Linked DNA regions of Homo sapiens: all the other regions are linked to region 3. The links come from fine-mapping of genetic effects on gene expression. A gene starts in region 3. Each other region holds a variant in brackets. All regions are shown on one strand. Distances are between the middles of the regions.

The links.
Region 1: its variant is fine-mapped to the expression of NUDT12 in whole blood (TOPMed, PIP 0.97).
Region 2: its variant is fine-mapped to the expression of NUDT12 in whole blood (INTERVAL, PIP 0.95).
Region 4: its variant is fine-mapped to the expression of NUDT12 in whole blood (INTERVAL, PIP above 0.99).
Region 5: its variant is fine-mapped to the expression of NUDT12 in whole blood (TOPMed, PIP above 0.99). The same link has a PIP of 0.9 or more in monocytes.

What each region holds. Positions count from the first base shown.
Region 1 is chr5:103,520,749-103,525,858 of GRCh38, forward strand. It overlaps the pseudogene PDZPH1P. Among named protein-coding and RNA genes, the nearest start is that of LINC02115, 19 kb to the right of the region's middle. The variant T/A (reference allele first, on the strand shown) is at 2,900.
Region 2 is chr5:103,440,517-103,445,626 of GRCh38, forward strand. It overlaps the pseudogene PDZPH1P. Among named protein-coding and RNA genes, the nearest start is that of LINC02115, 99 kb to the right of the region's middle. RefSeq lists a silencer at 2,464-2,682. The variant G/A (reference allele first, on the strand shown) is at 3,038.
Region 3 is chr5:103,560,248-103,565,357 of GRCh38, forward strand. NUDT12 (nudix hydrolase 12) reads right to left here and starts at 2,542. Exons shown (of 7, transcript NM_031438.4): 1 at 2,456-2,542; 2 at 1-7. The coding sequence starts at 1. RefSeq lists enhancers at 1,782-2,314, 2,315-2,845.
Region 4 is chr5:103,400,505-103,405,614 of GRCh38, forward strand. No RefSeq gene overlaps it. Among named protein-coding and RNA genes, the nearest start is that of LINC02115, 140 kb to the right of the region's middle. The variant C/A (reference allele first, on the strand shown) is at 2,228.
Region 5 is chr5:103,538,564-103,543,673 of GRCh38, forward strand. LINC02115 (long intergenic non-protein coding RNA 2115) reads right to left here and starts at 3,422. Exons shown (of 5, transcript NR_104670.1): 1 at 3,291-3,422; 2 at 2,380-2,468. The variant T/C (reference allele first, on the strand shown) is at 2,753.

The sequences.
Region 1 (5,110 bases), 39 kb before region 3:
GCAAATGAGTACTTATAATTGGATCTTTGCAAATTAAAATCTAATTTATCAATATCAAAATTTATTTTCAGAACTATTTAAATAACAAATGGGATATATCTATGAAGAAATAAGCATCTTTATTTTTATATATATATATAATTATTAATGATCCATTTATGTAACAACTTAAACTTCACTTGTCAGAGGCCTGGCAAGGTGGCTCACACCTGTAATCCCAGCATTTTGGGAGGCTGAGGAGGGAGGATTGCTTGAAGCCAGAGGTTTGAGAACAGCCTGGGCAACATAGCAAGACACCCATCTCTAAATTTTAAAAATAGCTGGATGTGGTGGCATGCGCGTGTTGTCTGAGCTACTCGAGAGGCTGAGGTGGGAGAATCGCTTGAGCCCAGGAGTTTGAAGCTGCAGTGAGCTATGATCACACCAGTGTACTCCAGCCTGTGTGACAGAGTGAGACCCTGTTTCTAAAAAAAAGAATAAAATAAAATTCACTTGTTAAGGTTAAACAGGTGAGGAGAAAGAAGAATCATTACCTAATTCATTTTCCATTACTTTGCGGTGGACTCCTACCTCTTATGAGGGTGACAGGAAAACAACATTCATTCGATAATATTCAGTGTTCACTTTCTACATACTAATTTCTGTCGTGTTGGTTATTGGAGCGGTCACAATGAGCAAGATGGCTTTTGCTCACTAGAATGTTACAGAGTGGTGGAACTTTTAAAAATAATATAGAACTGATCTCTGGCCATTTCTCCAATGCTTGTTCTAGTTCCGCTATTTTTTGAGATTGAGAGTGTAGGTTAACTATGAAGGCATTCATGAGGAGGATAATTTTCTGATATCAAATACTTTACGTGTAACAGCAATTCTTTTTTGAAAGTGTGGAGTATAAAAGAAATCTTATGGACCTAGGAAACTGTGTATGATAATATGGCCCTGGGATATGGTGGGAAGACTTTTCCTCCAGGATCTTTTCATATACTTTTGATCTTTTCAAATTAGGGGAAAGTATATGTTCTACAGTGTGTTTTAAAATGTGATCTGAAAACGATTGAAATGCCCACCAAGTACAAAGTACCACTTCCACTGTCCTGCTTGGTATTTGTGGACTCTTAGGTTTGCAAAGAATATAGAAGGTGATTTGTTCTAACGAACCTCTCTATGCTCAAAACATTTCTACCAAATTTCTACCAAGTAATCATTCAATATATGCTTGAACACTTCCCAGACTCAAATTTATTCCCTATTGAGTCAGTCTAATCCTTGTATACTACAATATGATAGAAAGTTTTTATGTGATGCATTGAATCTATGTCTCAGTAATCTTCCTTCACGTGTGAGCCTCCCCTTTATTCCATGAATACCCAGTAGATATTTATCAAGTCTTTCAAGGAGTCAGGCAATTTGTTTGTACTGAAATGAAGACATTCAAATCTCTTGAGGGACTCTGTTAAAATGCACACTTATCACTTTGTAGCAACAATATATTAATCCACTAAAAAGCACAAATGTTTTATCAGTTGCTATGGTTTGAATGTATATGTCCCCCAAAATTCATATGTTGGAACCTAAGATCCAATGTGATATTATTAAGAGGTGGGGCCTTTAGAGATAATTAAGTCTTCAGGGTTCTGCTCTCATAAATTGGCTTAGTACTCTTTAGAAGGGCTAGATTAGGCCTTTTTGCCCTTCTGTGTATGCCATGTGAGGACGCAGCAACAGGGAGCCATCTTGGTAGCAGCAAAATGCTTAATACCTCACCAGACACTTAATACTGGCACCTTGACCTTAGACTTCTCAGCCTCCAGAACTGTAAAAAACAAATCTATGTTCTTTATAAATTACCCAGTCTCTGGTATGTTGCTGTAACAGCACAAATGGTCTGAGATACCAAACATGAGTGTGAAAGTGGAAAGCTACCACCTTGAAAGCCAGAGCAGGGCCTGGGAAATGAATGGGAAGACCACAAAAAAGAAGCAGATCTGGGAGGAGCCCTGCTGGAGAAAAGCAGAGCGTTGCCGCTGAAACTGGGATCTTGGAATGTGCGTCTGCTGAGAAATGTTGAAGTGGGCACGGGTGTTGAAAGCTCCTGATTTCACCAGAAGTCAGTTTGCTGGAAACTATCCCAACAGTTGTATTCTGCTACGTGAAATGAAATAATTTTTTATTCATCTTTTTATTCCCAGTGCTTGGTGCAGAGCCTGGGACCACAAACTTTCTCAGATTTGCAGTCCTCTATAACTTTGTGCCTTGATGTGAACTCTTAGAATCACTCCTATTTTAAGAGAAATAAAACATTTCACACATTGTATGTAAGTTTTGTGTTATATTACATACAAAGGGCTGTTTATGGCTATTTCTATGCCATGTAAAAATATCATCTAATCCTTCTCATTGTCTGTAATTTTCTCAGGCTAGCCTACTTTTGGTTTCCTCATTACATTTTTTTATGATATAGAATTTCTGGTTCTTTGGCAGAGCTCTTAAAGATATATTCACACCATTAACAGCTGAATAAATGAAGCCTTGAGCAACTACTTTTTTAACCCAACAACGTATAGCCCTTACCTGGCAGAGGAAGAACTTAGTGTTTAGTTATTAAAGGTTTGACTGGTATCTGGTATCTTTCCTTTATAACATGATGGCTGTTACTTCCTGCCACACCCCCCATACCACACCCACCTTCTCTTGTTTATCTAGTTCAGAGGTCACAGATTGCTTACTTTGTACTGTGTCTCCCAAATCTCATGATCTGCAGACTCATACATTAAAGAATCCAGGTCTCCTGCTATTTGGAAGTCAGAAGGCCTGTCTGTACTGGACCTGCGTTTTCCTTCCCTTAGGACACACTCGCTAGTTCACCAACACTCCAGACTTGCTCACATACAGCCTGCTT[T/A]ACTCATTTACATCACCTGCCTGGCCCCTGTAGACAGTTCACATTGTGACGTCTAATCTAGTTGATTCCTAAACGCACACACATGGTGGAAGGAACTACACAAATATTACAGTGAACACTCATGTCAGGGACTCCGAATCTGAGGCACATGCATGGATGTTAAGGGGTTAGAGGATCGCTTTTCAAAATGTAAGTGTAAGTTTGTGCCTATATCAATTTTATAATTTTCTGGTAAAAACAGTCCAAAAGTATCCCAGTTTCTCAAAGCAATACACTCCCTGAAAAAATTACCCAGTTCTAGCCTGAGATATCAGTAATATGAAGACAATAATGTTGAATAAAGTATAAAGATATTCATAGTTCTAGGAGAGTTAAATCTATGCAAACATTTATAGATTCAAATATTTTGTATTAATATTATAACTGCTGAACTATGTTCCTGGTTTTGTTGTTGTTGTTGTTGTTGTTTGTTTTGGTATGTGAACTATTCAAAGAAATCTGATGTGACTTCCCTGCATTTATTTTTGCATTCAATAAATATTTGAGCACCTATACTACAGGACAGGTACTATCTAATTTTATGAATATAGCAATGATCAAAACAGGAAAAATCCATGCCCTCCTGGAACTTATATTCTAGTGAAAGAAGACAGAACAAAACAAAAATAAACCAGTAAAATATATAGCAGATTAGAAGGCAAAAAGTGCTATGTATAAATGGAAAAAGGATAGCGTTTGCCTGGGCTGTAATGAAGATGGTTCAGTTTGCAATTTTAAATGGAGTGGTCTGAGAAGACCTTCCTGAGAACATGCTGTGTGAGCAAAAATCTAAAGGAGATGAGGAGATGAGAATGAACCATGTAGACATATAGGGGAAGACTGGTCCAAGTAGTGGGAGCAGTCCATGCAAAGGGCCTGATGTGGATCTGGGCTGGAAGGTTCTAGGAAGTAAGTCAATATGGCTGGAAGAGTGATCAAGGAAAAGGATACAGGGAGAGAGTTGTAGGAATAGCCTTTTGATGAATCAGTAACACAGGGAACCAGTAGCTGGAATTGTTTACCAAATGGGACAGTTTCAAACTCTGATGTGTAATATCAGCTTTGAGAGAATTCTGACTTGAATTATTGATTTTCTTAAGAAATGTTTCCCGCTGGGAGAGGTAGGACAGGGAGGAACATGCCTCTGGGGGAAGGAGAGTCAACTTGGGAGATATATTCATCCAGGTGAGCATGTGTTTCCTTTGGGAGGCACAGTTGTTCTTACTGCAGGTTCCCTTGCAGTTCCAAATAACTATAGACTGAAGTCAGTGTTGGGATTAATGTCATTGATGCTGATTTCTGGATGGATGTTGGCACCAGGAAGCAGTCCCCATGACTGATGGTCCTTGCTTTAGGGTGTTCATATCAAGCAGATGACCATAGAGTTTTCATACTGTTTTAGGGCATTTACTCTCTACAAAACAAATTTCACATTTTATTCTAACAGTTATGTAATTGATTATGCTTTTTGTATTTTATTTCTACTTCTAAATTTTACTAATTTCATTCAAAAATCTAGAGACAGAACTACAAAGAAAATATACCTTCTCCTTTAAGTTTCATCATTCCAAATATAATTTCTGAAGCTATTAGGATTATTACCAGCAGTTTAGAAGACAGTTTTTACTCATTCAAAATGTATTTTAATTTACAATATGGAATAATGCTAACATTAAATATAAAATAATTTGGACTCATTTAAAAAAACAAGGGCCTTCTATGAAGTGACAAAAATGATATAGTGCTGATTTGAGATTGAAAGCAGACAGGCAGAATTATGTACTTAGGAAAGAACTTCCATCTTGGCCCTACTTGAGGTCTGGAGAGCTTCTGGGTTCTATCAACAATTTGGTCCAAGTAATGCACAAGGGAGGTCAGAGGTCTGCTGGAGGTCAGAGGCCCCATGGTGGCTCAGTGAGGATTAGGCAAGGTCGTTTCTGTTTTTTGTCCTTTGTTGTAATTACTATTCCACATGGCCTTCCAAGACATACATACAATGCCTCTGTAACACCACAGCAAGATTTAAAAATATATTTTATTACAAACATATTCTTCCTATTCTTCTGAACATGCTTAGCTTGCAAGAAGGAAAGAAATGGTGGATTATTTAAGAGTGGCAAAGACTAACATTTCCTACAAAATTGATTTGGCAATATATCAACCTTTTAAAGA
Region 2 (5,110 bases), 120 kb before region 3:
CCTTTGGATGGTGCATCTGTCTTCAGGTCCCCAGATGCTGTGTATTGATTCCCACACCTGGGTGGGTGAGTGTCAGTAGTGGTGGTGGGGTGGGATGACCATAACCTTAGAGCTCTGGATGGTGCTTGAAGAAATTAGATAACTGTTTATATCTGGAAAGAGTGTCATATGGAAGAAAGGCCAGGCATGTGGTGAACTGAGTTCTAGTTTTGCCTTTGAACTGGCTTTTCAATTTCCTAATCTCCATTATTAAATGAGGGGATGACAAATTACTCACAATTCATAGCAATCATGGTCAGTTAAGTTAATTTGAATATTCTTTCATTAAGTACACATAATGTGTCATTTTTGGAGCATATAATACCTTAGAAAAGATAACCATTAGAAAATAAAACACAAGGTAAAGGATGATAATTGTCAAACGACAGTTAAGTTCAGAAAAGAGAGAAGGTTTATTTATCTAGGACCATCTGAGATTGCTTAATAGTAGAGATGGACAGCCCTTGAATAGATGTTTGAAGGACAGCTAGAATCTGGACAATTTATATTGGGTGATCAGTAGGTAGGAGACAGTTCAGGGGAGGGAACTAGCACAAATAAAATCATTGGGTCAGAAAAATATTAACAAGGTGGGGTGTGGTAAAGAAATAGAATGCAGCCCTGTTTGGGTGGAATGTAGGGTACTTTAGCAGAAACAGCGGAAGATAAGGCCAGAAACAGGAGCTTCTGGACAAAATATAAGGCCCTGGCGTGCTCTAGAGGCAACAAAGAATGATAGACATCTCTAGAAAGAGTTATGCAACGATAAGAGCTGAATATAAACAGGAATTTCATTTTCTTCTTCTTCATCAATTTTTTTCTTTTTATTGATAAGTTAGGCTACCTGGGTTCAAATTCTGTCTTCACCATTTACTATTTAGGAGAACTTAGGCAAATTATTTAACCTTGCTAAGCATCAGTTTCTAAACCTGTAGGTGGGATAATAACCTATAACCTACCTTATAGGGTTGTTGTAGAAATTAAATGAAATAATAAGTAAAAGCACTCAACAGAGTGCCTAGTACAAGAGCTGCTCTCACTGAATGACAGCTGCTGCTTTTGCTGTTATTATATTTAAGCTATTTAATAGACCAGTTTTTGCAGCTCTTTAATTAGGACTTTTCTGTTCAAGTAGGGCCTCTGACCTTTTGGGATAAGAAAAGCCACCTAGTGGCTGTCATTACTATTTTTAACCTCTTGTAATCAGTGGCAGTCTCTGGGCCCCAGGGGTTTAAAAGCACTTTGCTAACAGTTCTGAATTTGGAGTAATCTGTGGATTCGATCCCAAGCATTTTCTTTCTGTCTATGAAAACAGTCCCTTGAAAATTAGCTTAATTGATTTGGTAATTAAAGGAGTTCAGACGTTTATAGTGATATTTTATACTAAAAGTCCCAGTCAGTGACTACTTTGGAGGTTTAATTGTTTTGTTTACCTTAATTCCCATCCTGCTATCAGCTGTTTAAAACTAAGAATTTGGGGTTGAATAGAAACAGCCTGTTTTGTAAGGGCTTAGAAAGACTATCTCTTCATAGTGGAATGATGTTAGGGTCATGTTTTAAAATGGAAGGGAGGGTGGAGAAGACTCATTTCATTGTTCATCTTGAGTGATGAAAAACGGGCCATGGTGTGTTGCTCACTTTGTACCTCTTGTACACTTCCAAGGTCAAAATGGTCACTGGATGCCTCCTTCCAATTTGGCATGTCTACCTATCTAAACATAAGCATTAATCCTAAAAGAAGAAATTAAATGACTGAGATTCCAGGATGTTCACAATTGCTAATTACTGCTAATTATTTAAAGATTATTCATATGGGAAAAATTTAACTGCAAATAGAACACCAATGATATATTTTGTCAAAAATTATAAGAAAGTTAAGTAATTTATTTTGTGGAAATCAGGTGCAATTATTTTATTAAATTATATTATTTGTATGATCATTTGTACATATAACTTTAAACTATTATATATAATTTAATAAGTATAATACATAATAAAATACATACAGTAAAACATAAAATATATCTAATAATATATGTAAGAAAACTTTGTATAGAGCTTTCTTAAATCACTTTAATAGCAATGACTCATTTGATCTTCACAACAGTTTTGTGGAAGATTGATAGCTGTTATTCCCATTTTATTAATGAGGAAACTAAGTTTTAGGAAGTTAAGCAATTTGCCCAAAGAAAATAGTTAATATGTGTTTTTTTGTTGTTGTTGTTACTCACTTGTCCAAATTAGGACTACTATGTGCTATAATTTGAATATTTGACCACTTTAAACCTCATGTTGAAATTTGATCCCAATGTTGGAGGAGCGGGGCTAATGGGAGGTATTTGGGTCACGGGGGTGGCAAGGGATGATCGTATTTTGCAATATGAGAAGAACATGAATTATGGGATGTCAGGGGTGGAATGCTATGGTTGGATATTTGACCCCTCCAAACTGGAAAGATCCCCAGTGTTGGAGAAAGGGCCTAATGAGAAGTGCTTGGGTCATGTGAGAAGATCCCTCATGAATGGCTTGGTGCCGTTTTCGTGTTAATGAGTGAGTTTTGCTCTGTTAGTTCCTGCAAGAGTTGGTTGTTAAAAGAGCCTAGCACCTCCCTGTTCTCTCACTTTCTCTCTTGCCGTGTGATCTTTGCATATGCTGACTTGCTTTCCCTTTCCACCATGAGTGGAAGCAGTCTGAGGCCCTGACCAGAAACAAATGCTGGCACCATGCTTCTTGTACAGCCTGCAGAACTGTGAGCTAAATAAACCTCTTCTCTTTATAAATTACACAATAACAATGACTTAGGCATTATGAGAAAAGAGAGAAGTCACTACCTAAGAAAACTATTGGTATTGACTCTGAATGCATCAATGACAAAAAGAATAAAGGAATTTACTTTTCACTTTTCCAGGCAATAGAATGTGAGGTGAAGGGTACATTGGAGTTAGCCTGGCTGTCTTCAGATCCCACCTTCATTACTTACTACATGTGATCTTGTCAA[G/A]TTATGTACACTTTGCAGCCACTTTCCCATTCTAATTTGTAAAATGGGAACAGTAATAATACCTCTTCTCTGGAGGACTGATGGAAGAATTTAGGTAAAGCACATGGCACAGGGCCAGGTAGAAGATCAATAAAACTAATATGTTGCTACTATTATTATTGTAATTACTATTATTTCAAGTGAAATTTGAGTCCATACCTGAGGCTTGGGTAGAGCGATTGTTATCATAGAAATACAAGCCAACCATCCTTTCAAGATGCAATAGTGCAGGACCCACATGTCCGTGTTTATATCCAGCTGGTGCAGAAGACCCAGACACCCTGGGTTCTTGATAGCCAGAGGTGGGAGGCTACTGTTGTGCAGAGTAACATCTTCCCAGACATGGCTCTGCAGGTGTAACATAAAAGGGTCAGCTGAGTGGTCATCCTGTGCCAAAAGTCTTCAACTCCCAGACCAAGTCTGTCTGACACTAGGGAAGCCACTGCCCTACGTGGTTCTTGCTAAGACAATCTGAATACCCGAGCAACTAGCCAGAAAACCTAAACTTATCCATTGTCTATAGGGAAGTACTCTTTTTCCTTCTCGTGTCCATAGACATCCCTTCTTTTTGGCTTCTATTTTATTCTGAGGAAATCAAAAGTATATCAGTCAAAGAACAGGGAATCATGTATAGAAAGGCAATGGAAACAAGCACCTTAGCAAAGACTGTTTTTAATGCCCCTGTCTATAAGCGCTGAGCCTGATAAGTTAGGTAACATGTCTGGGAAGATGTTACCTCACTCACCATTGGGATTGTCTTCCTAGCCCTGTTCCTGGTATGTCCACTGTGACGAATAGCAATCCTTGGTTCGTGCTTTTCCTTACCTGTAACTCTCCTTTGTGCAATGGAACTAGTTAAATGCCCCAGGCCAACTCAGGTCTTAGGCTTTCACAGTCAGTGACATGAAGGCCAAAGATAAATTAAAATTCTCTTCTCTGGAGGGCAGCCCTTCCTCCACAGGCCTGGGAACTGGGAGGGAACTCTGGGAACTGTGACCTGAGGCTGGGAGCACTGTGCTTTATCTCTTTATCAGAATGCCCTGCCTGTACTTGCCAGTTCCTCTTCTTTGTTTGGTTTCATTTTTGCTCTTTAGTTTTAACATGGCAGGGCAAATGATTTCAGAAGGCAGAGTTTGCTGTGTTCTTTGCTGCGAAATGGGAGCCTGCTGGGAGTTTGGGTGTTCATTTTTTCCACTTTGCTTCAGACTCTGAGTGCATTAGCAGAATAAATGCCTCTTAAAAATATTGAGGCTCATTAGGATGACACATTGGAGAGATGAATGTGTGTGCTCAACGTTGTGTTCCAGGTAAAATGAAACACAAGTCCTGTTGTTTGTCAATGATGATGCTTGTTATTGTTCTGAAAGGACAGTTACAGGGTACCTGGCAGTACATTTAAGCTCAAACAATCCAAATTTTCCCAAAGGCACAGAGCCAAAATATGTAGAGAAGACAATTGATAATTACTTTTGCTTGTATACCATTTTGTGAGGAAATGAGCATATTTAAAGGAAATCTATAATCTCATTAGAAATCATATCTATATCATAAAAATGAAACAATTGGTATTAAAGCAATTTTTCCCCTAACAGTTTGTAGAACAAGTTCAGAAAGAGAAATATCAAATGCCTTAGACATTGAGGTGATGACTCGCCTGTTGATGTTATAAAGTTATCTATCAGTTTGTAGGTGAAATTTAAATTAAAAACCATCTTGCTCCAAAGCTTGGAATCATGAATGGGCAGGAATTGTGAAAATTGGCCTTATATGTCTACAGAACAAGGATGCTAACATAAAGCACTGTATTTCTGAATTATAACACACTCATTTTCTAGTAAGCTGCTCAATCAATAGCACCATCCTGAGATATCCCTGAGATCTTATATTTGGAGAGTAAAAAGAAAACAGCAGCAGTGGTTTGTCATCCATGGGGAACTACTGGACTTCTTCATGTGAAACAGAAATTCCACCCCAGTTTGTGACTCCCCACTGAGTCTTACTGAGAAGGATGGCATACAAACTCCTGAAAATGAA
Region 3 (5,110 bases):
TTTCTTCCTTAAAAGAAGGAAAATCAGGGGAAAAAGCTTATTTGCAACTGCTTTTTTATCAATGAACAATATTGATAAATAGCAATAGAATAATAGCAATGGTTTCCAAGGCAACATACTATTCAACAGGCAATCCTTAAACAGCATACATTTCAATTTCAAAATGTTATCAGTTTAGAATTATAAAATGCAACGCAATTTATATGCCCATGGGAGTTACACAAAATAATGAATAAAGAGCTCTGACAGTACAGACGAGGGGGCCATATCCTTGGGAGGGGGAACCAGGTAACATATTACATAAGGAGGAGGTATTTAGGGTAGACCAGAGGGGACTTCACGATGGGTGGGGACATGAGGGGGAGAGCATTAAAACAGATGGAAGTAAAGGCAGAGACTTTATAAGTTTCACAGGAAAACAGTTTATTGTTTGACCTTGCACAATTAATTCTGTAATCCATCTAGGATCTATTTTTGTTCATGGCATGAGGTAGGGGTCAAGATACTTTTTTACCCAATGCATAATCCATATTACTCCGTATTATTCTTGAAATTACCATCTTTGTCCTACTACACTGAGACAAATATTGTCACAAATCAGATGATCATATATTTTTGGTTCTATTATTGGACAGTTCTGTTGGTCACTTTGTTGTCCTTGAATCAGAGCAGCTTTTAAAACTCATTAACTTTATCTGCTTTGTCACCTTTTTGTTTCGGTGGGGTAAACCCTGAAATAATTGTTCCATACCTCTTAAATATTGCCTAATCATGGACTGCAGATGATAGAGCACACACTGAGCTTTTTTTGTCTTTTTTTTTTTTTGGCGGCGGGGGATGGTGAAAATGGTTCATGATTCAACTGTCTGTGAACTTCTCAAAGTATTTTTTTTTAAGGTATAATTCTTCTTTCTATGAAATGCTATTAAGAAAAGATTTGGGATTCTAACAACATTTCTATCATTCTAAGCAATAAGATTTTTAAGCTAAAAAGACAGAAAGGTTATAGCCCATAGTTTTTGATAGCTGCTGTCTCCTGGGTTCTGAAAGGGCGATCTGGCTGATGAATTGCATAGCAGGAATAGTATGAACAAAATTTAGGGAAAACAAGGAGTAAAGATTAATTGTCTCATTTTGGAGCTGTTCACCTTTCCTATTTGTGTCTTTCTGCTACTTATAAATAGGTTAAAACTGCTCACAGTCATGGAAACACTTGGATGAAACCTAACAGTGGAAATCTGTTTAGAAATTAAATTACCAGAAGTAATATCTACATGACAGAATAATTTTTGATTTATTCTAGAATTTACTTCGCTGTTCCTTTCATATTGAAATTTCTACATACGTTAAAAATACTATGCATAACAAAAGCTACAAATTTTCAGGACTTTATTTTGAAGCACTGCTGTACAGCTCCTGTACTGATCTCCCTTCCAAATTGTCTTTCTCTTAAGTTTATTTTCCAAAAACCCATATTATAGTTTTTTCAGCTAGGTTTAGTTTGAATAATATTTCACTGTCTCATGTTCTGGGGTCACCGTCACTCCCTCACATTCTCACAGGCCGCGCCAGGTAACTGCAAAATTGTCCTTCAAAAATACAGCGTCATTCACTACCTCCAGGGCAATGCTTATGCATATGCTATTCTGTGGAGATGGGAAGTGGAAAGTGTACACTTTTCCCTCTAGCTTTCTCAGCAGAAAAGCCATCTAGAAATAGTACCATTATTCATTCCAGAGAAGCACATAAAGTCTAACACCCAATTCTACTGTTTGATTTACTTTTTCAATTCTCATTGACAGGTTATAGAAGGTAAAGATTTGAAGGCAGAATAAAGTGCTGCCCTTGTTTTCCAAGAAGCTCAAGGACTATTCCGAGAAATCATTTAAAAGAATATTAGATGTAAAGGGACATAAATTTTTAACAAACCAACATCCACTTTTACTGACATGTAACCCGGGGCCCATGACTTCCGCATGCTCACACAGACCGAATGGGACAGGACAGGACCTTAAATATCGCTCTGTCACTGAAATCACTGACCATCAATTAACGAATTTCATCCACTCCCTGGGCACTCAAGACCAATTAAGTGCCACCCGTGCACGGTCTCTGAAAATGGTAAAATGCCTTAAGATATTTTACTTTCTTGCCACTACTGTGAGATTCCTTCTTTCGAGGTGAAATCACACCCTAAGTAGCGCTTCCTTTTCCCCATCTCAGCTTGGGCAGGAAACTCTACGACCTCAGTACCGCCGCACCTCCGCCCTGTCGCGGGAGCCCCTGCAAATGCGTCCGTGGCTCCCGCGCCTGCGCCCACCAAACCACTACGAGGCTCCGCCACACAACTCAGCAGGGCCACGCAGGGCAGCGCGGGAACCAAAGAGCCCAGGGAAGTGGTCACCGCCCCCAGAGGAGGCAATGAGACGACTAACTCCCCACTGCTTCTACTAACCCAAAGGTGACCACAGTAGAGGCAACCAGGATGCAGTCCAAAGATTGGGATATCCCACTCGCTTTTCCTGGAGCCGGATGCAGTCTTCCCGACTTCCGGTGGAGATCCGGGGGTGGGGGGGGGGCGGGAGGGGGGCCCCCGCGGTTTTATGGGAGATGTAGTTTGAAGCCCACAGGTTGTGCGCAAGGGAGAAGGGGTGGAGATTGGGGGTGGAAGTGTTTGGGAGCCGGCGCGGGAGAGATCGCGGTCTAAAGGATTGGAGCTGAATGAAGGGCTGAAAATCCTTCTCCTGAGACTGTGATGTGTAGATAGAACGTGGTGCAGGCGATCGGAAAACTGTAGGCCTAAGGAAACGATTTTAAATTTTCCAGCGTCTCCCACCCAACTCCTAGCCCTCTCTCCAATACAGTCCAATGCAATTGAGTGCTCAAAGCATTCTTTCCTGTTAAATAATCCTGGACTATTGACTAGACCAAGTCACTCTTAAACGAGATATTCGGCCTCTGTAACACCTTAATCATTCACCCCATGGGAAAACTGGTATCATATACTGACGCCTAACTTATTCAGTAGTCCTTTAAAAAGTATGTATCAAGCGCGCAAAACACCTCCTTGGGTTGTGAGGTGTAAATAGGATAATGTATCCAAAGCTCTTAGGATGTTGTGAAGTGCAGAGTGGGCACCCACAACAAAATTATTGTCGTTATTTTTTATTTCAGTTCCTGTGCTTTTATGCTCCAAAACCTACAGAAGTTATGAGTCCGAGATTACAAAACTAGGTGTTGGCGGTCTTCTAACTTCCAGACCAGGGCTTTTTCCTTTACTAAACTCTCTCCTTGGTAATCAGCAACAGCTACAGGGGTCTCTTACAATTGATCACTGTTTCCCACCCAGATTTTACCCTTGGAAGCTCCTTCTCACTGTGAAGCTGTATGCACCAGTTGACATTGATCATGAGGGCTTCTAACGCCCTGTGCTGCTGTTTTTTTTTTTTTTTTCTTTTTTTTAGATGGGTTCTCACTCTGTCACCCAGGCTGGAGTGCAGTAGTGCGATCTTGGCTCACTGCAACCTCCGCCTCCCGGGGTTTCAAGTGATTCTCCTGCCTCAGTCTCCCGAGTAGCTGGGATTACAGGTGTGCGCCACCAGGCCCAGCTAATTTTTGTATTTTTAGTAGAGACAGGTTTTTGCCATGTTGGCCAGGCTGGTCTGGAACTCCTGACCTCAGGTGATCCATCCGCCTTGGCCTCCCAAAGTGCTGGGATTACAGGCGCGAGCCACTGCACCCGGCCGCCCTATGCTTCTTTATGTGACTAGTTGTTTTCAGCCTTTAATGATTTCAGTGACCAGACAGGTGGTCAGAAAGGATTAGTTACTTCACTTGGAGTACCCAATCTTTGCATTCAAACATATGTTAGATTAGTATAGTGAACCCTCGTGTATTAATGATCCAGAGTCAACAACTATTAATATATAGTTCTCCCAGTTGTTAGGATTGTTTTGAAGTAAATTCCAGACCCCATATTGTTTTGATGACAAATATTTAAGAGTAAACTTTTTGGAAATATGTATTATATCTAAAATATAAGGGCTTTGAAAAACAACACAACTTCAATATCCCTAGTATTACAAATTTAACAATAATTCTGTAATAACATAAAAGAAACATTCAATATCAAATTTACTCACTTGCCTCAGAAGTTTTATATGTTTTTCAGTTGATTCATCTGAACAAAGTCTCCACATCACATTTGATTTTTAAAAATCTATGGATTCCTTCCTCTTCCCCTTTTTTTCTGGCAGTTTATTTACTAAAGAGTAATGATCATTTGTTCTGTAGAATTTTCCACATTCTGAATTTTGCAGATTTTATTCCTGTGCTGTCCTTTCCCCCTGTATTTCTTGCAAACTGGTAGTTAACTTTATAGAATTACTCAGATTAAAGTTTGATTTTTTTTCACAAAAGACTTTATAGGTGTTACAGTTTACTTTGTATTGAATTACTTCAAGAGGCTTACAACTTCTGGTTGTCTCTCTTTTTTTAATGTTATACTTGATCATTGGGTTCAGATGTTGTCAACCTGATAACATGTATGATAAATAATAATATAAATATTATAAAAATATGGTAAATGTTTATGATAAATATATGACATTGATATATAATTATGATAAATATAATTATATTATTTAAATATTAAATTTATGATAAATATATTATAAATTTTTCCATCAACTTTTCAGCTAATAGTTTTAGCAGCCATTCATGATTATTGCCTGCATCCATCATTTTGTTATGAGTTGCAAATAGTGATATTCTAATTTGATATTCACTCTACATTTACTAACAAATTATTTTATAATAAAGAACTTCATCTAATTAAATATCTATACAGCTTATATGGAAAGATAGGATAAATGTGCGATTTTCACCATTATTTCCTAATCTTCAGAATAATTAGTTAGTTCCCTAATATCCTTCAGGTAAGTATACAAACGTGCCTTGTTTTATTGCACTTTGCTTTACTGTACTTCACAGATAGTACATTTTTTACAAATTGAAGGTTTATGACAACCTTGTGGCAAGCAAGTATATAGGTGCCACTTTTCCAACAACGTGTTCACTTTGTATGTCTATCACATTTTGTAATTCTTGC
Region 4 (5,110 bases), 160 kb before region 3:
AAAAAAGAGGGACTGCTTTAGCATTTGCTATGATCTAGCACTATGTTCAGTGCTTGCCCCTTTGTTATTTTATTCAGTGGTGGAATATGTGATACAATATGTTCTCATGTACGTTTCCTGAGCCTGTCATGTCTTACATCATTTAGGTCCTTGGACATTCTTCTCAACTTGACAGTCTCATATTATGACACATTGGGTTTCCATGAAAGTAAAGTCTGAGACAAGGACCTGGGTGCAGGCAGTTTGTTTGGGAGATAATCCCAGGAAGTAGCATGCAGGAATGAGAAGAGTGAAAGCCAGCCTAAGGTTGTGGTATCAAGGGCATTGCTGTAGACAGTAGGGGCTCAATTCTGCTGGGATTGATGCTCAGAATGCTCCTGAGATTTGTTTGCCTGGAAGACAGGCAGGAAGCTGGGGCATCCATCCACTAGCCCTTGCCCCTTCTTGGCTGAGGATTTCTCTGAGAAGGTAACTCCCCTGCACTTGTGGACTATACCCAAGCAGACAAAATAGGCTCCTGCAGTATCAGAGAGGCTCTAAGCAGAAAAACACAGATTATGTTTGAGGTGGGGTGAGGAGAGATGGTTTCATCTAAGCTTTCATATATTATATACCACAGCTGTCCTAAAATCAGAGGTGGTTTGTGATACAAGGTACTTGAGGTGTCTGTCAATGAAATAATAGGAAATATATCTTGGTCTCTGCCCCCAGTTCCTGGCACAGAGCTCCTAAAACCCTTAGAGTTTCCTAAGCAGTAAGGGTGCTAGAAGTATCTTTTGTTCTAATATTTAATCTCTGCTCTGGTTACTGACACAGAGCTCAGAATTTCCTGAGTTATAGGAGCATCTTTTGCTCTAATGCAGAGACTCTTGGTGCGCTCCTAGATGGAAGCTTCTCATGAGAAAGGCGAAGCCATTACTATAAGTTTGGAGATTTCAGCCCCACCCCTATTCTCTGGAGAAGAGAGAAGGGCTGGAAATGGTTGATAACCCATCATGCCTATGTGATTAAACTGCTATAAAGATTCCTGAACTATGGTATTCAGAGAGCTTCCAGGTTAGTGAACACTTCTGAGTGCCAGGAAGGTGCTGCACCTCACTCAGTGGGGACAGAAGCTTCCACACTCAGGATCCTTCAAGATCTTGCCCTATGTATCTTCTCATCTGGCTGTTAACCTGGGTTTTTATTATATTCTTTATTAATAAACTAAGTATGAATAAAGTATTTCCCTGAGTTCTCTGAGCCACTCTAGCAAATTAGTCTAATCCAGGAAAGGGTTATGGGAATCCTGGATTTATAGCCCATCATAGGTCACAACCTGGGACTTGTGACTGGCATCTGAAGTGGAGGCAGCCTTGTAGGACTGAGGCCATAACCTGTGGGATCTGATGCTATCTCTAAGTAGGTAGTGTCGTAATCAGATTGAATTAGAGGACAACCTACTGGTGTCTGCTGAAGAATTGCTTAGTTGGTGTACGTGGAAATACTTCCACACATCTGATGTCAGAAGTGTTTTGTTAAGTGGTGTGTGAGTAGAGGGAAAACAGTTTGGTTTTTCCTCTTGCTGCTATCTTGCTTACTCTGATTCATTTACTACTCCTTTTATCCATCCATCCATTCAACCAAATGCACTTATTTAGCACCCATTCTATCCCAGGAAATGTGCTAAGCCCTAGGAACATAATGGAAAAGCAAGATATGATCCTCATATTTAAGGGGCTTATATGTTATTGAGGAAACAAATGAGTTCCTCAATAAAAAGTAGCAAGAGTCAATTTCCATTAAAAATATATCATGGACATTTGGTCTTGGAAGAGTCAGAGCAGGTTCTTCTTTCTGGAAGAAGCAAAATGTAAGGTGATGGAAAAGCTAGGTCAGGTATTACCATTAAGCCTCTTATGACTGGTCTTACGCTGTTGAATAAAAGTTAGCTGGATTGGTTGGAACTCTGATAGCTTTACCTATTAAAATTCAGCCTTTAGCAATTTCTGCCAAATAACTCATTAAGTATTAGAATTAGTTTTTTGCCATAGTTTGAATATTTGGCTGGGTAATTGTTGGTTAAGATAACATTTCCATTCTATGGCCATTTTTTCTCGATTACCATTTTATTTTTTTGGCTCTACATACACCTTTGCTGAAAAACCAAAAGCTCACCTCTGTGAATAAAGTGACCTGAGTGTTGCTGATTGTTAAACTTTTTGGCAACTTTGAAGTAAGCAAATGC[C/A]AGAGAGAACCCTTTAAGGAGGCGTGGAGTAATTAGGGGCTGCAAACTGTCAGCTACTAACAAGGTCCAAGAAGTTTCTTGCTGTGTGAGTGGATTTCCTAAGTTTGCCTGCATTGGAGTTTAAATAAAAAGCTGTTTTGGCTGCTGATGTCATGTTCCAGAATGCCCAGGTGTACTCTCCCACAGTGCAGTCACAAATGGAGACTGTTTAGCATCACTTGCTGCTGAGAGCAGCTTAAGCTTGCATCTGAGGTGTCACTTTCTGCCTACTGTGGGAAATTCTTCCCAAATGGTCCTTGGCTGGCATCTTGCCCCAGCTAAAATCGATGTAATATATAATCCTTTGAATCTGGGCATGGGGCCAGCATAGCAGGCACATAATTCTCATGCGACAGGGAAAGATGGACATGAGGGAGCTGTACAACAGTATTTCTACAGTCACTTACACACTCTAAAATGGCAGGATCGTACTATAGAATGGACATTCGTGTTAATGATCTTTCTTCTTACCTTCATGTGGAGAGAAGATTTCCTGGGCATATCGGGAGAAATTCATTCATTACTCAGTTCAACTATTCAAAAATATTTATTGAGTTCCCACAACCTGGTAGGCACTGCTGAGACCTGAACATATGGTAGTTAACAAGATTGAGAACATCCCTGCTCTCATGGAGATTATATTCCCATGGTAGAGGCAGGGAAGAGACATAAAACTATATAAACAAGAAAATGATCAGATTGATAAATGGCTATCTGTTAATAGAGAAGCAGGGTGATGTGATAGGTAGGGCATGGGTGGATTTTCTGAACGCTGGCAGGTGTGAAATGTTGGAGCCCATTAGTGGAGCTAGAGCACTGTGGGGCATAAAAGGCTGGGTGATGGTGGATGACCTGCATTGGTGACAATGATGTGACTGTGAGGAGTTAGGGGGAGGATCATCTGTTGGGAGAATGTGAGTAATCAACCTAATCTGGATGGGATGATCAATGGGTATGAAAGGCAAAGGGGATAAGTAAAAGTTACCTTTGAGCTGGGAGCACAAGCCTCTTAGTGGCCTGTGGTGTTGCACCTGTGAGGGCAGTCCCACTTGCTGTGAAGAGGCCAGGATGACCCTCCTCTCCTCTTATGCAGTGTTGTATGGACTGGGACACAAGATGCAGATGCTTATTCTCACTGTGAACTGGGTGACAGAACTGAGGGCTTCTCCAGTTTTCAGGACAAGAAATCCCTTCACACACTCTGTCATCATCCTTTCCTTCAGGGATCTATTCTCCTAACACTTACAGCATCTATGACTTTATCCCTTAGGGAGGATGCATGAGCCAGGAGATGATTTTTCCACTCTATATATATGCACCTGCTATGAATGGCAGGCTGGCAAGAAAATTTTCTGTCCCCTTCTATGGCACAGCAGAAGGCAAATGTGCATATAATTGATTATCAAAGATATGTTATAAATATCTTAAATTTTTCCTTCTTGCAAGTTTCTGTCCAAATGTCATCTCCTTAGAGAAGCTATTTCTCAACATCCTGTCTAAAATACCCACTTCATACCACCTATTTAGCCTCTTTTCTCTGTTATATACTTTTACTTCATTTGGGTTTACTTTTTAAATTTTATACTGACTTCTTGAGTTGAATGCTTAACTCATTATTTTCAATCCCTCTACCCTCTCTATATGTGAATTTAAGATTGTGAATTCTTCTGAAGTATGACACCAGCTGTATCTAATTCTGATATATCGTATTTTAAAAGTTGCCATTCAACTCCAATTTTTTTTTCAAATTTTCATTGTGCTTTAATATTTGAATAACATATTTAAAACTTTTAAGATTTTCAAATGCATGGAATTTGGGGGTTATTTTTTGCTGATTTCTAATTTAATTTTATTTTGCTCAGAGAATGAGGTCTGTATTATGTCAGTGTTTGGTGTTTGTTAAGTTTTGCTGAGTTGTGTTTTATTTGATTAGTTTTTGTAAATTTTCCACGTCTAGTTAGAAAGAATAGATGTTCTCTAATAGTACTGGATATTATATAAATCTATTGTGATATTTAAATCTTCTGTCTTCAAATTTTTTATACATTTGATTTCTCACTTTCTGAGAGAGTTGTATAAAATTCTCTCATTATGATTATTTTATTTCTCTTGAACATTTTTTTCTCATGTTTTTGTTTATGTATTTTCAAGCTGTCTCATTAGGTGCTTACAGGTTCAGCATTTACAGTGAATTCCTTTTATCATTTTCAAATGCCCCTCCTTTTCCCTGTAATACTTTTAAACAATCTTAAAGCTTTTTTTCCTAATATTAAAAATGTAACTCCATTTTTTTTTTTTTTTTAAAGATAGGGTCTGGTCCTGTTGCTGAGACTGGAGTGCAGTGGTGCCGTGATCTTGGCTCACTGCAACCTCCGTCTCACAAGTTCAAGTGATTCATTCTCCCACCTCAGTCTTCCAGGTAGCTGGGACTACAGGTGCGTGTCACCATGCCCAGCTAAATTTTATGTTTTTAGTAGAGACGGGGATTCACCATGTTGGTCAAGCTGGTCTGGAATTCCTGACCTCACATGATCTGCCTGCCTTGGCCTCCCAGAGTGCTAGGATTACAGGCATGAGCCACCATACCCAGCCAAAAATGTAATCCCACTTCTAGCAAGTATTTTCTTAGAATAACTTTCTACATAATTTTAGTTTCTATTCTGGGGGGGACCTTAGGGTTGAGTGTTTTCCTTGTTACCATATATAGGTGGATTTCTAATAAGCTATGTAATAGCCTCAGTTTAAATTACAGTTTTATTCTGGTTACTACTTTACTTGGATTTCTCTGCCATCTGAAATTGTGCTTTTTAATTTAGTTATCCTATCTTCTTCTTGTTTTACTTT
Region 5 (5,110 bases), 22 kb before region 3:
CTTTGTTGGAACGCCATCACTCCGTTTGACTCACAACTGATCAAATGTAACTTAATGGATAAAGATAATCCTTGGAGAGACAAGAAGCCCATTCTATAAACATTTTTTTTTTTTTTTTTTTTTTTTTTGGGGACGGAGTCTCGCTTTGTCTCCCAGGCTGGAGTGCAGTGGCCTGATCTCAGCTCACTGCAACCTCCTTCTCCTGGGTTCAAGCAATCCTCCTGCCTCAGACTCCAGAGTGGCTGGTATTGCAGATGCTCGCCACCATGCCCTGCTAATTTTTGTATTTTTAGTAGAGACGGGGTTTCAACATTTTGGCCAGACTGGTCTCAATCCCCTGACCTCAAGCGATCTGCCCTCCACGGCCTCCCAAAGTGCTGGGATTACAGGCATGAGCGAATGCACCTGGGCCCACCCTACAAACGTTAAGTCAGAGTCTCTGAGGAAATGCAGACAGAAAAGAGGATTGTGTAGTGTAGAATTTACTATATCTAAAGTTTAAAGAATTGGGAAAGAAAAAATTGATATTAGTAAATGAAAAGAAAAGTGAGCTTAGTATCTAATAATGTGTGATACATTCAGTAATACCAGAAAATCTCTTAACAGTTCCAAAATGTCTGTTCTTTGTTTGACTGTCGATATGTGTGAGATCATCTATCCAAATCCCCCATTTCTTATTGGAGAAAAGTGGGAGAGATGTAGCAACTTGCCCAAGAATCATGGTCCTGAGATGCTGCTTCATTTTCTCTCTCCACCATGGTAAGGTTCTGAAAAGCGAACAATTTTCTTAAGATTTTTGAAAGATTTTCATTGTTTTACTCTGTTAAACTTAGAGGCTCTTCCTGACATGCTTCATGAACAGCCCCTTTCCTCTTTCACTTTATTATGGAATGATAAATTAAAATTGGGAAAATCCAGTGTACTTAACAACAGAGATAGCCTTTGAATTTGGCACTGTGCACTGTGGGCTTAAAGTTCCGAGCTGAACTTGATGTAAAAATGTAAATATAATGTACATTTCAAGGAGTTTACTGTTTAGCACAGGAATTCTCAAATTTGAATGTGGTTGAGAATCACTGAGCAACTTGCTGAAAATGTAGATTTTGACCTTCACTTTAGAGATTTGGAGTCTGATTGGTGATCCAGGTGTATGCAATTTTAATGAGTGCCCACTCTCCCACACCCTTATACACACACCAAGCGATTTTGATTAGAAATCCCACTGAAGCAGATCCAATTGAATAGGTAGAATGGAACTTCATTCAAAAAATCTTTGAAAGCCTTAAGATTTTAGGCTAGGGCTGCCCTGAGGAAACTTGCTATGAATTGTTTCACTTTATTCTATCTCATTTCTCATCTCTCTCAACTGCACACACTAAGGCTTGGATTTTTTGTTTTATTGTTTTGGCTTAAGATTCTCTGTTTCTATATCAACAAGCTTCTAGGAAGAAAATTCAGTGATAGATTGCTTTTTATTTTTTTCTCAGCCCAGTGTGAAGAGGCTGTACCCAAACTGTGTTCTAAATCAATCTTATGTTAGCTCACCAACATCCTTTTTTCATCTTGTACTAACTGGAACTTGTGATAAAAATCTAGCAAGTCAGATTAGCAGGCCAGGGCGGTTGGAGTAAGACAAATCATGTTGTCTTTTTGATTGCTTGCTCTCCTGTGTTCACATTCAGCTTCTCAGAGGCAAGGGGTTCCTATAGTTTGGGTACAACTGTAAGAGCTGAAACAGTTGGTAAGTACATGGAGAATAACAGTGTAGTGGAAGTGTTTGGAAGGAGGGCACTTGGCAGGATGAATGAGGTATTTAGTTTTATCTTCTTATTTATGATGGAGGATATATCTGCTCATCTCCTTAGTGCTGCAGCATCTGTGGGGCATATTCTTTATTCTGGAATTGAACCAGACCCCTGGCCGCTCCACAGTTGACTTGAGCCACATGAGCTTCAGAGGAACTTTATTACTGGGTTCACCAAACATATACAAAACACCTCAGTGTATACAGCCTTAGGTTATTCCAGTCTTCTGTGGAACCACTAGCGGTATGACCCAAAATGTGGGATCCACAAGGGCTAAGACCTTGACTATCTTATATTTTGATATCTTCCTATTCCATATGTGTGGAGGAAACACAGTATTCAATAAATATTTGTTGGATGAATGAACACAACTTTATTGTTCCCAATTTCAGTCATTTGCATACTACCTTCACGAGTTCTACAACATTCATAAAATAGCTGTGCTGTTATTTGCTTAATAGTTTTTTTATTCATTTTTTTTTACTTTAGCTTCATGTTCGGCAATAATATAGGTGAAATCCTGGGTTATATCTAACACATATTAAAAACAAATAATAAAAAGGAAATATCTCACCTTGCACCACTCCAAACCATTGTGCATTCCAGCAGTGGTGTGCGTCCCTTGCTTTAGAAGATTTTAAAGATGCAGTCATACTCTGCGTGCTATCATAATGACATTATTAGACTAGAAATCCCTGAAGAACTGTATTTTGCTTTGCTCCATTTCCTCTCTGGCTTTAGAATGACTATTAGACTGGAAGTTTAGCTAATCCCACATGCAGAATGATGTACGAATTAAGTATCACTGTATGAAGAGAAATCACCCTATCCAATTACAATTAGAACCTTAGCTACTCTCTATATTTTTTGAATTGCTAGGTCTGAGAAATCTATAATTATGGTTTTCCCCTACGCTGACCTTGACCAGCACAGGGAGTTTCAGAATC[T/C]ATCTTGAAAAGCCCATTTTCAAAATTGACTCAGTCCTATGTGACATTTTACATTATTCCTCTTTGACTAATTATAGTCCACAATAAGAAGTGATAACTTCATTTTAACACATGTAAGTATTTCAAATAATAAAAAGTTTACTATGAAGGTGTAGTTCCATTAAGATAAAGAAAGAAAAAATAAAGCACACACATGTACTTAAATATATGATTAGATGCCTTGTAAAAGTTAGCAAAAGAATAGGCACAAAAGGCTAATTGAATACATCTCAGGGACTACTTTTTTTCTGCTCAAGACTTTCCTTACCTATTAATTAAATAAGTAATGCCTTTGAGTTTTCTAAAGAGGAATGCTGTCTCTTTTTTTGCTTATTGAAGTGGAGCCACACTACTTCAATAACCATGTTACAGAAGAGCTATGTTTCTCTGAAGACTTAATAATTGCTGAATCGCCAACTGTTGCTGGGTTTCAATGACGTCTTCCTAATTTTGAAATATTCAACCTTAAACCTCAGTTTGAAGTAGTATTTGAATATACCTTCAAACAGAAACCTCTGTATATAATTCCTCCGAAACATGAAATCCCTGTAACTCTTTCAATGAAGTTGTGTTGGTGTTCCCCAGGGGCAGAGCTCATCAATTCTGCTGACACCAGAGCTTCGGATTCCTTAAAGCAGAACCCCTGTGACATCTTCATTCCTTTCCAGTCTAGAATCAAGGAAAACTGATGTATAACCACCATTCTAAATTCTAAAGATTAAGAAAAATCTCAAGTAAATATTTAAAATAAACACTCAAAATATATCTTATCCCTAAGCAAAATTGTGCTTTGCTCATGGTAGCCTAAGAAATGGCTGCATGTTCATTCTACTTCAAGTCATTCAGAAGAAAATAATAAATATGACCTTTAAAATATTTTAGTGGCAATGTTATCCATTATTAAGAGCCAATTATCGTTAGCAATATTTAGGGCACTTTGGACAGTGCTAAATCTCATTATTTGTTCATAAATCAAGGTAACTTGAATTACTCTGAAATTACTGTGTTACCTCAGAAAAATAATTTGATAAGAATATTAATGCAAACAAGATACAAAGGCTTCAAAGGGGCTTTAATCGAAAGATTTAGAGGAGAAATCTCCAATCTTAGAATCACCATTTTAAAACATTTTCTATGCTTACTTATTCACTTAAGTAAATACATTTCTGTAGCTTAATCCAAACAAATGCATGTTTTTGAAAGCAATAAAAAGGCATTTATTTAAAAATGTTCTATGCTTACTATTTCCTGCTGACCTTCTTTTTATATAGCTTAAGTCACTGACTGTGCTGTATTTTTGCCCACTGTCATAAAAAAAGTATGTAAACTGCAGTCTGGCCAATGATGAGGGAATGAGAAATTATGCTTAGAATTAATCTGTCAGGTTAATTTAATCACTTTATGACTGGTTTTAAATTGGGCAGATAATCAGTGCTAACATCCCATTCCATCTCAAATTCACTGAGGTCTCTACAGTCTCATGGGATCAGAATAAGTTATCAGTGGATTTTGGGTAGTGTGTGTACATCTTCACAAATCAGATAACATTCAGAATTTTTATTCTACTTTTTGTAAAAATAATCCGGGACCACGAAAGTGTCGTCACATCTAGTAAGAGTTGAAGATCTGAAACAACACAGTGAAATTCCTGGTGTCATTTTAAAGATCTTTTTGAAAACTTGGTCAGTGGATGATTTTTTTCCCCTAGAGAGAAGATACCAAGACTATCTTATAAGCATCCTAATTGTAATTTCATCACATGATTAGTACAGATTTATTTAAGAAGTTAGATGACTTTACATATAATTAAATGGTCAGTTGCTAGCAACTAAGAGAATTATATCTTAAAACAAATATAGATAATAAAGGTTTATTTTTCAATTTATTTTCCAAACATATAATTTAGGAATACTTATTTAACATCATTTTAATCTGACATTAGATAAACGAGCTAAAATTTAAATTATCCGAGAGGAAAAGGAGATTTAAAAATATCTAATATTTAAATTCTGAGTGAGCACGGAGAAGGTAAAAGGAGCTGGCTGAATTCTTAATGGTGAAAAGAGTCTTTCATAGCAAGTATTAATTTCCATAAAAATCATAGTAAGTGGTCACTGAAAAAATCTTGCTTTCCAAATGCACAATTTGTTTGAAATAACCAGATGTAAAGATTAAGTAACAGCAAGATTGTAAATAGGCTGTTTTGCAGTTTGATTTGGGATTATTTACAAAAAGATGTTGGCCAGAATATTTTGCCTATGAAATTGTTCTAAATCACAGAGTAACTGCAATTGTAATAGAAAAAATTTCAACGTCCTA